Homo sapiens: one gene and its partner. Each later gene encodes a partner of the first gene's protein in a complex. Links are inferred from orthologs where the notes say so. Each region holds a gene or a part of one and is shown on either strand. Other genes may lie near its edges.

Region 1 (7,094 bases):
GCTCTAATCTGTGTGTGTGTGTGTGTGTGTGTGTGTGTGTGTGTCAGGGTCTTGCTCTGTCACTCAGGCTGGAGTGCAGTGGTGTGATCAAGGCTCACTGGACCCCCGACTTCCCGGGCTCAAGCAATTCTCCCACCTCTCAGCCTCCCAAGTAGCTGGGACTACAGGTGTGTACCATCACATCCAGTTACTTTTTTTTTTTTTAATAGAGATGGGGTTTTGCCATGTTGCCCCAGCTGATCTGGAACTCCTGGGCTCCAGTGATCCACCTGCCTTGGCCTCCCAAAGTGCTGGGATTATATGCGTGAGCCATGGTGCCTGACTTCTGATCAATTGTTGAGGCTCCCTCGAGCTCTGTGTGAGGGGCATCTGAAGCTCCAGCAAGACTCAGAAGGAGAGGTTGCCCTGATCAATTAATGACACCTGTATCTCTGTACCTGTTCCAGCATCTATCACAGGCCTGGAACACGGCAGGGCTTCGTTAAATATCTGTTGCATGAATAAATGAAAGATTTCCCATTCTCGATCTGCATTGGCTAACTAGGGTAACCTGCCTCCTCAATGGTTCGCTTGCTCCCATCTTAAAGTCGCATCCTAGAATTCACTTTGGCCCAGCAGGAATTCTTACGGAGTTGTCTTAATAAAGACAGAAAATGCTTCAGCGTCCAGGTCTCCCTCTCTTGGGGACCTTGGTCTGCTTCCTGCACTTCCTATGTGCCCTCTAGCACCCAGGTGGGCCAGGATTCCCTTCAGCTTCCTAAGCTGTGCTCCATCTTGACTGCCGTCCCTGGATACTCCCGCCCGTGGCCCCTTTCATGAGCCTGGCTCCTGCTCCTGCACTCTGGGACCCCTCCCCTTCTCAGAGACCCCTGCCCTGCCCTCCCGTCTTCTCTGCGGTTTCTCTTCTCTTCCTTGGCAACCCCCCAGCCTGGAGCACCCCAGAGCAAATGTAATGTACACCCAGATGGAGACTAAATCTCCTATGATATTAGTGAAATGTTGGTATGGGCATTGATTATAAATTCCATTCCATAGAGCTAACAAACTGAGCAGGAAAGACGGTAACATGCTGTCTGCTAAGCAACGAGGCACATTGGCTGTCACACGTGGAATAAGTGCAAAGGAGTCTGTGGGCCCAGACACCAAGTGTGTTGTTTTTAAGCAGAAACAACCTCTCTGTTTCTCTGAGACAACTGTGTGGACAAAGAAGAATTTCAAGGCTCTCTGCCGACTGGCCAGAATGGAGCTGCGGCTGCCAGACTCCTACCCCGGTGGGGATGGGGTAACTGACTGCCGGAAAATTTGGCTCAATTTTCCTTTAAATCATACCAGTGCTGTTCACAGATGCACAAGACACAAGGACTCTACCTTCCTGGAGCCCCTCTTCTCTCCTTGGCTCCCACGCCCCTGGTGGCATCTAAGCGGGGGTGGGACATTGACCCAGGTTCCGTGGCGGCCACCTCCACGCTCTGCATGGGCCACTCAGACGTGCAAGGCATCTGCCTGGGGCTGACGGGCAGGAATTCATTGCAACTTCCCTGGCTCTGTCCTTGGCACTTGGAGCCATTTCCTGGAATGGACGGGGAGGAAAATATTTCCCCAAATACCAAGAAGAGTTATTTTGGGTATAAAATGTACAAAATATGAGGAGGACGCTCCTTTAGCCAATGTGGAAATGTTCCCCTCAGCCCAATGTCCACAACTGCTTGGGAAGGGAAAGAACCTAAAAGCATCCACTGTTTCTCTCTTGCCTTGTCTCCCTGCCTAAGTGAGAGAAATGATCAGTGTGGCCTTCTTGTTTCTAAGGGCATTAGAACAGGAGCACTCACGTTGCTAGAAGCCTCCATATCTGGTTCTGCAGACAATCCTAATATGAAAGAGATTGGCAAAATTCCCCAGTTCCAGCTGCCCATGGCCCACCTCAGAATCCTACAGAACAAACACAACTCCGGCTGCCAGAGGTCATTCTGCACTGCAAAGGAAGAGAGCCTGTGCTCCTGGAACGGTACCACCAAGTCTCTGCTCTTCACCCACCTCCCCAAAGATCACCCTTCCAACAGAAATTAATCACCTCTTGGAAGCTGCTATTCTGAAATGACAGCCAGGCCACTTGTCTCACTTGGACCTAACTGTATTTAAGGAGTCACTTTCCCAAAGCACCACTATCTTTAAACTATAGAAACAGGAGTGTAAAGGCGATGGCACCCACAGTGAAATCCAAACCAAGCCCAGACTGAAGGAAGGCTATAGGTGAGCCTGGTGGGCCAACAGCGCGTATTTAGCAGTCCTGGCTAGAAGTTCCCTAATAACCAGTTCTGACCCCCAGAGACACCTCATTGTATGCATTGCAAAGAAGGCAATTTGCATGGCTTTGAGGACAGATCTGGTAAGACCCTGCACAATTTCTCTGGAAGATTTTGAGTCTTCCTGACACTTGTTTCCCCCCACCTCTACTCATCCTTGCCTTCCTCCCAGGCATTGGCCTTACACAGCCCCTCTCATTCAGAGGTCAGGAACTTCCCTGGAAAATGAATCCTGAATTCCTACCCGCAGAGCAAGGCAATGTCTGGGACTGAGACTGATCACTTGCATCTGCGTCTCTCCTACCCCCAACTTTATCTCCTTCAGACTGGGGTGGGACATCCTGATCTTTGGGGATGTGCCCAAGGCAATTTCCAATGCATCTCAGCTCTGCGAATGCCACCAGGTTGGTGGGTCTGACAGTCTCCCAGGGACCTGGCTGGTTCTGCAAGGTCCTGCCTTCTGGGCACCGGCACAGCCCAGCAGCAAATCCAACGCTCCCCAGCTCCCGGTAACCTTCTATCTGGCTAGAACTCGGTACAAAGCTATCATAGTCCAGAACTAAGCCATCCGCCCTGCATCCCTCCTGACTCAGTTTCCCCGGGATCCAGAGTTGTGTGGGGCCCTGTGGCCTGCCAAGAAAGACCAGCAGAGAAGGAGGAAGGAGCGCGCCGGGGCCTTACCTTGCAACCGCTGGCGCTGCGATTCCTACGGGGCTCCATGCCTGCCCGCCCCTCTTATAGCGGCCCGATCACAACTTGCGCAACTGCCCCGCAGGCCCCGGCGCATTTCTAGCGCCAGCTCCCGCCCCGCCCCTCAGGGTAGCGACGTGCCGGGCGGCTGCTAGCCCTGGGCCCGCAGTGTGCACCTCGCGGGGCCTCGAGGGAGGGCCTCGGCGCGCCAGGAGCCACGCGCGCACCCTTGGGTACCTCCCAAAAATTTGGGGGTGGCTGGTAGGAGCGAGAAATCCTTGATGTCCCTCCAGAGGCTCCGGCGCGACTATGGCGCAAGGACCAGCCCCTTGGGAAGGTGCTTCGAGCCGCGCGGGGCGCGGTCGGGGCGGGGGTGGCTGTGAGGGGCTCCGCGGAGCGGGCTGGGGCATACGGCTGCGCCCTCGTTGGTCCTGGCGCGGCTTCGGGGTGGGAGCGAATCGGGACTCGGCCCCGACGGCCCTGGACGCCAGGGAAGCCCAGGGTTAGAGGGAGCGGCCCGCAGTGCGCCAGGCTCCCCGACCCAGATTGCGGGGTTGGGGGTTCTGAAGTCCCACCCCTTCTCTGGCACGCGGAGAATCGAGTTCCAAGCCTCAGGGCAAGTTGTCTCTGGCTGGCACCCCAGGGAGTGCACGCTCTCTGGAGGGCTCCAGGCGGGCACTGTGGCCTTTGGGGACACTCTGGACATACTGTGGGTCTCCATCCTCAACTCCGTATTTCCTACGTACAAAGTGGGGGTTGGGGGGTGGTCCCAGATGTAGCCACGTTTTTGTCATCATAGCCTGTGAGTGGTGTGGTAGGCATGTTTCACCTGTATCGTTTGTAGTTCCCCGCTTTACATGATGGGTTGGTTTGTTTTGTTTTGTTTTGTTTTGTTTTACCCTTGGGCTTCAGGGATGAGGAATCTAAGGTCCAGCGAGGTTAAATGACTTTCCTTAGAATCCACAGCTGGTAAGGAATAGCAATGGGCTAGGAACCCAGGCCTATTCTGGTCCCCACTGCGCAGAGCAGCTCCAAAAACAAACCACTCCATTGAGAACCAACCCAGCCAGGCGTGGTAGCTCAAGCCTGTAATCCCAGCACTTTGGGAGGCCAAGGTGGGTGGATCACCTGAGGTCAGGATTTCGAGACCAGCCTGGCCAACATGGTGAAACCTCATCTCTACTAAAAATACAAAATTAGCCAGGTGTGGTGGTGAGTGTCTGTAATCCCAGCTACTTGAGAGGCTGAGGCAGGAGAATGGCTTGAACCTGGGAAGTGGAGGTTGCAGTGAGCCAAGATCAGACCATTGCACTACAGCCTGGGCAACAAGAGTGAAACTCTGTCTCAATAAAAAAAACAAAACAAAACAAAACCCATAACATAAAGCGGGGAACTGCAAATGACGTTGGTGAACCGAGCCTGCCACTGCCGGGTTTGGTAATGCCCAAAAGCTAAGAATGGTTTCTACATTTGTAAAAGTTTGAAAAAAAAAAATCAAAAGAAGAGGCCAGATGCAGTGGCTCATGCTTGTAATCTCAGTATCCCACGTTGGGCACCAGATATTGGGGGAACCTGCCCCCAATATTTCAACGTAGGTTCTTTCTATTTTCCATAAGTGTCAGCTGGCTGAGAAATAAAGAGAGAGAGTACAAAGAGAGGAATTTTACAGCTGGGCCGCCGGGGGTGACATCACATATCGGTAGTACTGTGATGCCCACCTGAGCCTCAAACCAGCAAGTTTTTTATTAAGGGTTTCAAAAGGTGAGGGGGTGTAAAACAGGGAGTAGATCACATGCTTCAAAGGGCAAAAAGGAGAACTACTGATAAGGGTCTGTGTTCAGCGGTGCACGTATTGTCTTGATAAACATCTTAAACAACAGAAAACAGTGTTCGAGAGCAGAAAACTGGTCTGACCACAAATTTACCAGGGCGGAGTTTTTCACCACCCTAGTAAGCCTGAGGGTACTGCAGGAGACCAGGGCGTATCTCAGTCCTTATCTCCATTGCGTAGGATAGACATTCCCAGAGCGGCCATTTATAGACCTCCCCCCAGGAATGCATTCCTTTCCCAGGGTGTTAATATTAATATTCCATGCTAGCAAAAGAAATTAGCAATATCTCTCCTACTTGCAGGTCTATTTATAGGCTCTCTGCAAGAAGAAAAATATGGCTCCCTTTGCCCGACCCCGCAGGCAGTCAGACCTTATAGTTGTCTTCCCTTGTTCCCTAAAAATTGCTGTTATTCTGCTCTTTTTCAAGGTGCACTGATTTCATATTGTTCAAACACACATGTTTTGCAATCAATCTGTACAGTTAACACAATTATCACAGTGGTCCTGAGGTGACGTACATCCTTAGCTTATGAAGATAACAGGATTAAGAGATTAAAGCAAAGACAGGCATAAAAAATTATAAAAGTATTATTTGGGAACTGATAAGTGTCCATATTAAAATGAAATCTTCAAAATTTATGTTCCTCTGCCACGGCTCCAGCCGATCTCTCTGTTCGGGGTCCCTGACTTCCTGCAACATCTCAGCACTTAGGGAGACTGAGGCGGGAGGATCAGCGCAACCCTGTCGCAAAACAAAACAAAAGAAGAATAGTTCTCATGGGAAAATTACAGGAAATTTGCATTTCTGTGTCTATAAAGTTTTGAATTCTGTCAACAAAAAATTGTGTAAATTGTTTATTCTTGTTGTATAAGTACCCATGTAATATCCTCAATTTTGCCTTGGCTTAGAAAGCCTAAAATGTTTTCTACCTGGCCCTTTAGAGAAAGTTCCCAGCCCTTGAACCAGGGAACACACATACATTGCACATTGATTCCTCCAGGCCTTTTTTCTTTCCAGTCCGTCTGTGGGGATGCCCAACTGTGCATCCATCGCTTCTCCCGGAAGAATCTCCCCATTCCACTAGGGCCTCTCCATCCTTAAAGAAGCTTTTCCTAGTTCCCCTTGCAGCTAATTCCTGTCTCTCAGTCTGGGTTGGGTGCCCCTTTCCATCTCCTCCCTTAGGTTTTAAGAGGACAGGGATTGGGCCATCAACTGTTTCAGTCCCGGTACTTTTCCAGTGCCAAGAACACATGGGTGCCCAGGGAAAATTTGCTGAATTGAACCCCAGGAACAACACACACCATAGAGATGATTTTTGTTATGTGTTATATTCATGTACCACTATACAGGGATTCCTCTAGACGCAAGGCCACTGGGAAGGTAAATGTTTAAAACTTGGGAAAACACACCTGCAGTGATGATGCGGAGGGAACAGGAAAAGCCAGGATCACACAGGTCCTGGAGACCACAGTCACATTGCATTCGAGGCTTCCTAATGGAAACATGTTTCCCAGAGAATGTGCATTCTTTGAGTTGGTAGGAGTCTATTTGGTCATTGCTATGCTCCTAGCTCATAGCCTGGTGTCTAGCTCAAAGTTTTTTAAATGAAAAATTTAAACATACAGAAAAGTGTGCAATACTATAGTGAACTACAATATACCCATCACCTAGATTTAATAATTATTATTTTCCATATTTGCTTCATTAATTATTTTGGCAAAAACATTTTAAAGTGTATTGCACACATCATGACATTTTATCCCTACTTTGGTGCTTCCCAAAAAATAAGGAAGAATTTCTGTGTAACTGCAAGACCATTATCACACAATAATAATTCCCTAACATCGTGAAAGCTAGTCTATACAAAATTTCCCCAAATATCTCCCTCTTCCACTATAGACCTCCTTAAACAAAATAATGAAAAATGAATAAACCACAAATTTTAGTGGATGTTTTCATACCTCCATCAGGACATCAGTGGCAGTATTTGGGAAGTTTTAAAAGGTGGTCTTTATAGCATCTCTTCCTCCAGTCAACAAACACACAGTCTTATATGTTTGTGAGATACATAACACACTATGCCTAAAACTTAGTGGCTTAACCCAAGACTATTTATTTAGCTCATAATTCTGTGGGTCCAGCAATATGGCCTGACTCATGCCTGTGGTGGCTGGCTGGCTATCAGCTAAGATGATGAGGGTAACTGGTCTAGCCTGGGCTTGTTTACATGGTGACAGCTGCTGGATTCCCTAGAGCAGCAAAAGATGG
Region 2 (7,026 bases), on another chromosome or scaffold:
TCTTTGTCCCTTAACATGTGTATACTTTCAGATGTTTTTTAAAAAGCACTTTGGCACCTTCCTATTAAAGAGTCTCTCTAAATCTTCTCTCAAGTAAAAGGAAGCAATCAAAAATGTTCATTGGCTTAATTAATTAGTTTAATACTAATTATGAGTATTATGGACTTTTTTCAGAAGAAAATTTGGATAAGATAGTCTCCTATGCTTTTGATTTCTACCTTTATCAAAGAACATTGCTAAAATGAGTAGATACCTGAGTCAGTCAGCATTTATTTGGCTACCTCCTTTTGCCAAGCACTTTACATAGATTATCTCATTTAATTCCCATAAGCTCAATAAGGTGGCACCATTATTTCCATTTTACAGGTGAGAAATCAGGTTCAGAGGATTAGCTTCTACCCAAAGTCATAAGACCAGATGGTGGCAGAGTTAAGATTTGACTCATGTTTGTGACTCAGAGCTCAAGATTTTGTAACAACCTTGATACTCTGTTTCTCACTCAGCAGCACAACAAGGGCAAATACGTTCCTACTCCCGCAGAGACTAGTGTCCAATAGATACAGGGAATACATATTTTATTCAGTGCACACTAGTTGGGAATTGTTTCCTACAAAGACATGAAAACAATCTTCAAATACTTGCAGTACTGTGGTTTGGGGAGGCAAAATGATCAAAGGTATATATTACAGGGAGGCAGTTCTGGATATAATTTAAAGAAGGAGGGCTTTCAACATTTAGAAGCTGTTGGAATTAAATGACTTGCCTTGGGAGGTAGTGAGTTTTCCTTCACTGGAGTTATGTGGACCAACTGGCTGCCCTCTGGTGACAAATACAGAGGGAATTCATCCATTGGATAGGGGTTAGGTACTGGAATTACTTGAGACCTTTGTATACTTTATGATTTCAAGGTGGCAGACATGGGTCATTGTCTTAATCAGTTTGGGCTACTATAAGAAATATATTTTAGACTGGGTGGCTTAAACAACAAACATTTAGTTTCCACAGTTCTGAAGACTGGGAAGTCCAAAATTGTGGTGCAGTCAGATCTGGTGTCTGGTGAGAGCCAGCTTCCTGGTTTGCAGGCCTGCTTTCTGCTCTCACATTGGAGAACAGAGGGAGAGAAACACAGAGAGAGTGTGTGCTCTACTTTCTCTCTTCTTATAAGGGCACTCATCCCATCGTGGAGACCCCACCCTCATGACCTCATCTGAACCTAATTATCTCCCAAAGGTCCACCTCCTGATAGCATCTCACGGTGAGAGGGATGGAGCCGGGAAGGTTTCAACATGTGAATTTGAAAGGGACACACATAATGCAGTCTGTAACGGGTCAAATGTAACCTCAATAAAATGAGTAAATTGCTACATTTGCTTGAATTTGGGACCTTTTTTTCTTTCTTTTTTATTTTAGTAAATGTTTTTATTGATAAATGATTCACATACCATAAAATTAACATTCTTAAAGTGTAAGATTTCATGGTTTTTAGTATATTCAGAAGGTTATGCAGCCATCACTACTATCTAATTCCAGAAAATTTACTCATCCGCCAAAGAAACTCTGGACCTATTAGAAGTCACTCCCCATTTCCCCAAACCCTCTAGTGCCTGACAACCTCTACTGTGGGAACTTTAACTTTTGGCTTTATTTTTCACAGCTCTCGTGGCATTATCCTTCAGTGGGGCTATTGGACTGACTTTTCTTATGCTGGGATGTGCCTTAGAGGATTATGGGTAAGTTATCATTTCAAAAAGAACTATTCCTCTTTCTGTGTCTTTGTCACTATTAGTATGGGTGTTAGAGAGTTCGGTCAATTTAGCACCAAGTTCTAACCAGTGAGTTAGTGGAGCCCAGTTTATGAACACAGTCCCTTTGTGGGTCAGGTGTACTTTTGCAGAGGGCTCTGTTAAAAATTGATGTATTCATTCCATAAGCATTTGTTTAACACCTACTCTGGACTAGCTGGGGACACACAAATGAAGAGAGAGTCCTGTCCTCAAAGAGGAGGTAAAGTTCTAGTTGTGAGTGAGAGACAGGCAAACGGTCTAGTCAGTAATCTGGCAGCTGCAGTGGAGATGCCAGCACAGTACGCTGGAGCTCGGATAAAGTGCACCTGAGTTTCAGTGGGACAGTCAGGGAAGGCTGCATGGCAGAGGTTGTATCTGAGCCAAGACTAGGTGGATGAATAAGAGTTTTTCAGGGTGATGAGTCAGGGGAGGACATTCCAGGCAGAGGGAACATTCTACACATTTTTTCATTCAACCATTGTTGGTTGAATGCTTCCCATGTGCCAGCTACTGTTATGGGAACTAGGGATTAAGACATAAGAAAACAAAGGTCCTGCTCTCTCAGAGTTTGTGTTTCAGTGGGGGAGACGGACAGTAAACAACAAAAGTATGCATACTGTCAGAGGTAGAAATGGTACAAAAGATGAAGAGCACAGAAGCTGGGAAGACAGTGGTCAGGGAGGGCCTCTCAGAGGAGGTAAAAAGTGAGAAGAAATGTCAAGAAAATCAGCAAGCAGGCCATACAGATCTCTAGGGAAAAAGCACTTTAGGCACCAGGAAAGCTGAATGCTAAGGCCCGGAGACATGAAAGTGTATATAGCCTTTTCAGGAAACCACACATGGTACATTATGGTACAGCATAAATTGTAGTGGAGTGGCAAAAGAAGGGTTAGTCAAGAGTGTAAAAGTCAGCACTTAGGGCTCTATATGCCTGCCGTGTAGAGGAGGTTCCATTTTATACATCAGACAATAGAACCTGGGAAAATATCTTGAGAATGGGTTTGGAGGAGGGGGTTATGTTAAAATGTCATTCTTGCCATAACGTGAGACTAGATAGGAAAGAGCTGAGACTGCAGTCAGGGAGAATAGTAGGGGACTACTATCATAAATCAAGCAAAATTGAGGGCTGGGGCAGTAGGAATGGAAAGAAAAGGAGAGTGAGTTAGGAAACCAAACCAACCAACAGGTTTTGTTCATCGATGTCAGGATTCAACAAGGAGGGAGAGTTCTTAGATGTCTCCCAGGTGATTGGCTTGAACAACTAGATAGAAGATGATGTGATTAGGCCAGGCACCATGGCTCACGCCTGTAATCCCAGCACTTTGGGAGGCTGAGGCGGGCAGATCACGAGGTCAAGAGATCGAGACCATCCTAGGCAACATGGTGAAACCCCATCTCTACTAAAAATACAAAAAATTAGCTGGGCGTGGTGGCACACGCCTGTATTCCCAGCTACTTAGGAGGCTGAGGCAGGAGAATTGCTTGAACACAGGAGGTGGAGGTTGTAGTGAGCCAAGATCGTGCCACTGCACTCTAGCCTGGCGACAGAGCAAGACTTTGTCTCCAAAAAAAAAAAAAAGATGATGATGATGTGGTTAAGACCTATTGAAGTGAGTTATTATGACAGTGATGAATTCAAATCCATCACCGCAGTCCTGGCCAACTATTACAGAAATTGTTTAAACCCAAGAGGGATCCAGATATAAGCGGTCACTTATATTTGTTTAGAGCCTTCACAGCAATTACTTTATTCTAGCTTTTGGAATGTAATACGGTATTATTATCCTCATTTCTCGCTGGGAAACCAAAGCCCAGGGTAGTTAAAGACTTACCCAGATTGAACAGCAGTAAGTGACAGAGCCCGGCCGTGGTGGCTCATGCCTATAATCCCAGCACTTTGGGAGGCAACGGTAGGAGGATTGCTTGAAGCCAGGAGTTTGAGACCAGTCTGGGCAACAAAGTGAGACCCCATTCTACAAAAAACTAAAATAAGCCAGGCATGGTGCCTGTAGCAGGGTTGGGAGGCTGAGGTGGGAAGATTGGTTGAGCCCAGGGGTTGGAGGCTGCAGTGAGCTGTGATCACACCACTGCAGTCCAGCCTGGGCGACAGAGTGAGACTTTGTCTCTTAAATAAAAAAGTAGAAAAAAAATTAAAATGGCAGACATGGAAATGGAGCTCATGTTCTGACGCCCTTGACCAAACGTTTTTCCACTATTCCACAACCAACTGTAAATCTAGGAGTTTTAATTCTCTGTGATACACTGTCTTTGTAAGGTAAGAAAATGACTCATTACTGCTACTACAAATAAGTTTGTTTTCTATCTTTATTTTAATTTTTTGTTTTTTAGAGATGCCACAACACCCAGCTGATTTTTTTTAGAAGTTTTTGTAGAGACCGAGTCTCTCTGTGTTGCTCAGGCTGGTCTTGAACTCCTGGCCTCAAGTCATCCTCCTGCCTTGGCCTCCCAAAGCTGTATCTTGATAGTGAACCAGGATTATCATCTATATTGGAAGTCAGCAAACTGCCACATATAACCTGCTACCTGTTTTTGTAATAAAGGTTTTATTGAAATACAGCCATGCTCATTTGTTTATGAATTATCTTTGGCTGCTTTTGCATTGCTCTGCCAATTATCTTTGGCAGAGTTGAGTAGTTGAGATAGTCTTTATGGCTTGCAGATCCTCGTTATTTACTCTTTGGCCCTTTATAGAAAAAGTTGGCCCACCCCTGGCCTATGTATTTATTGAATTGTATATATTTAATATTTACATTTTATATATAAACAAGGTTTCTTGTACATTAATATTTCTCTTAGTTGGATATCGGTGGCTTACTATGAATGAAAACATAGAGTCAGATTGTTTTTCACAAAACTGTCACTGTATTCCAGGAAAAATTAAGAGTTCTTGGCTGTGGATATGTAAGGTGACATATCTATTCCAAACCCCTTCCCCTCTCTGTGTCTCCTTTCTCACTGTTGAAAGAAGGGCTTTGAAGTAGAGAATGTCTAAGGGCTACTTCCCACAATATTGTTTGGTGATTCTTGAAACATACTATCATCCCTCTAGTTTAAAATCAGGGGTCCAAATCCACTGTTTCCATCCTGAGTCCTCTTGAAGGACACATTCCCTTCTTGCCTTTTGGTTGCCTAGATCTGTGGCTGGAATGGGAGGCTTTCATTAGTGTGGCTTCATCCCAACTCCTGCTTGTAGGTGCTGTCTGGGCGTATCTGTGTGATTACAGTATTGTGGTGATATGAATTATTGTAGTGTATATATAAAAATGAGCAGAGACTTTTTTTTTCTTAAGAAATGAAGCATAAGAAATGTCTGATGGAGAAAAAAAGATTATTTTTGAAGTACTGATAGAGAAAATACTGTTGGAAACCAGATGGCAATTTTTTTTTTATAATTGCAAAATGTTGAAATTTGGGAGGAAAACAGTTTTGTTTTGTTTTTGCATTACACTATTAATTGTGAGCTCTTATAATGAAGATCAAAGTACATCTAAGCTTTTCACTAGTGAGCATATTTATTTTCATGCCTTCCGTACTTAAAATTTATTTATTATTTTATTCATTTAACAAGTATAAATGGAGTACATCATTCTAGGCCCTGGAGATAAATGGCGTTTGATCAAGACTAATCTATCAGATGGGAATAAGTGTTGTGCAGAAAGTTCAAAGAGGGTGGTATGTTCGAGGGTGACCTGGGGTACATTAGAATAGATGACCAGGGAAAGTTCTGCTTTTAGAAAGGAATCTGTCAGTTTAGATCACATGGTATGAAGGAGTCAGCCAATGAGAAGATCATGGGGAAGGACATTGCAAGCAGGGGGCACAGCTAGCGCAAAGGCCCCAGGATAACAGCTATGAGCTCAAGAGTGTTCAAGGGACAGAAAAAAGGCTGGTGTGGCTACAGATTAAGCAAATGAAGGGAAAAGAGTACAAAATGAATGGAAGAAGTAGATAATACCAGACCATAAAGGCTTTGTAGGCTAGGGCAAGGAATTTAGGGTTTATTCTAAGCTCTTAAAAGGTTTCAAGCATGCGTGCACTCAAAAGATCTTTACCGAACTAGCTTTTGCAAGACACTCTACTATGTTCTATAGGGAAGGCAGAAATGACCAAGTTAAAATTCTGTCTTTAAAGAAATTGTGGCTCAGTGGTACAGAAAACAGTAAAGTTTCTAGGGTATATATTATATAGTGGCTTCTTAACACAATATAAGCTACCTACATAGTAATTTTAAAATTATCACTACTTATCTATCCCTGGTAGAAATCATCTTATGTTCTAATATTCACAATTAATTAATTTTTTGACCTAAACATTTAAAATAGCAATGATTTTGAAATAGTAGTATGTCTTTCATTTAAAATGTAACTGTTACTTTTCTTTTTGGATTTTGCCTGGGTCCAACTGACAGCGTTTACTGGCCCTTATTCGTCCTGATTTTCCACGCCATCTCCCCCATCCCCCATTTCATTGCCAAAAGAGTCACCTATGACTCAGATGCAACCAGTAGTGCCTGTCGGGAACTGGCATATTTCTTCACTACTGGAATTGTTGTTTCTGCCTTTGGATTTCCTGTTATTCTTGCTCGTGTGGCTGTGGTAAGTTTTATTTTCTATTGTTTTGCCCAACCGTTGCTGAGTTTACTTCAGAGGCCTGTGTCTGGGACCTCCATTTCATGCTCATTACTTAGGCTTTATACTCAAGGCCGTGTGTTTTTAGTTTCTCTGTTCCTCTACTTTAGACCTGCCTAACAGTAGTTCGGCCATGCCTTCAGAGTGCTTTCTTTATTTCTCTTACAACTTTTAGCCAGACGATATGATTTCTTACTTTTTCTACTTTAAGCTATTCTCTGGAATTGTTCTTAAATTCCTGCCTCTTAAATCTTACAGTAATCCACAGATACTATGCTAGCAGTACTTTTCTAGTTGCAAGATGAAGATATTTCAAATTCTTCTCCTGCAAATGGGATCATGGACTCAACTCTCAACTCAGTATAATAGGTATATGTTGAGGGACAACTGTGTAGCTTCCAGAAAATGCAGTGAATAAGTTGACATCTTCACTTCCAAGACAAAAACTTTCTTTTTGTCTTCAGAGTACACATTGTAGGTATAATTTATTCAATTATTTGCTATTCACTGTCTTTCCTACTATTTGATTTTATTCCCTCCAATTACGTTCTATTTTAATTTTATGAAACTCTTATTTGAGGCATTGAATATCA

The links. Proteins that work in one complex are often made in the same cells at the same time.
Region 2: the proteins of LEP (region 1) and LEPR are in contact, whole or in part, in a crystal structure (PDB 7Z3R), measured with the Mus musculus proteins. The link is inferred for Homo sapiens from one-to-one orthologs. Residues at the interface, in NP_032519.1 of Mus musculus: Lys26, Val27, Asp30, Thr33, Leu34, Lys36, Thr37, Thr40, Arg41, Gln92, Gln96, Asn99, Asp100, Glu102, Asn103, Asp106, Leu107, Leu110; in NP_666258.2 of Mus musculus: Tyr439, Leu440, Thr441, Arg466, Ser468, Leu469, Tyr470, Gln499, Pro500, Ile501, Phe502, Leu503, Leu504, Ser505, Val560, Phe561, Glu563, Asn564.

What each region holds. Positions count from the first base shown.
Region 1 is NC_000007.14:128,237,197-128,244,290, reverse strand, and holds the start of LEP (leptin precursor), read right to left. Parts: upstream 3,014-7,094; 5' UTR 2,985-3,013; intron 1-2,984. UniProt on the Homo sapiens protein: Key player in the regulation of energy balance and body weight control. Once released into the circulation, has central and peripheral effects by binding LEPR, found in many tissues, which results in the activation of several major signaling pathways.
Region 2 is NC_000001.11:65,423,649-65,430,674, forward strand, and holds part of LEPR (leptin receptor isoform 1 precursor), read left to right. Parts: intron 1-1,654; coding exon of another isoform or gene 1,655-1,730; intron 1,731-4,133; coding exon of another isoform or gene 4,134-4,155; exon of another isoform or gene 4,156-4,361; intron 4,362-6,213; coding exon of another isoform or gene 6,214-6,400; intron 6,401-7,026. Other genes in the region: LEPROT (leptin receptor gene-related protein), read left to right, coding at 1,655-1,730, 6,214-6,400. UniProt on the Homo sapiens protein: Receptor for hormone LEP/leptin. On ligand binding, mediates LEP central and peripheral effects through the activation of different signaling pathways such as JAK2/STAT3 and MAPK cascade/FOS.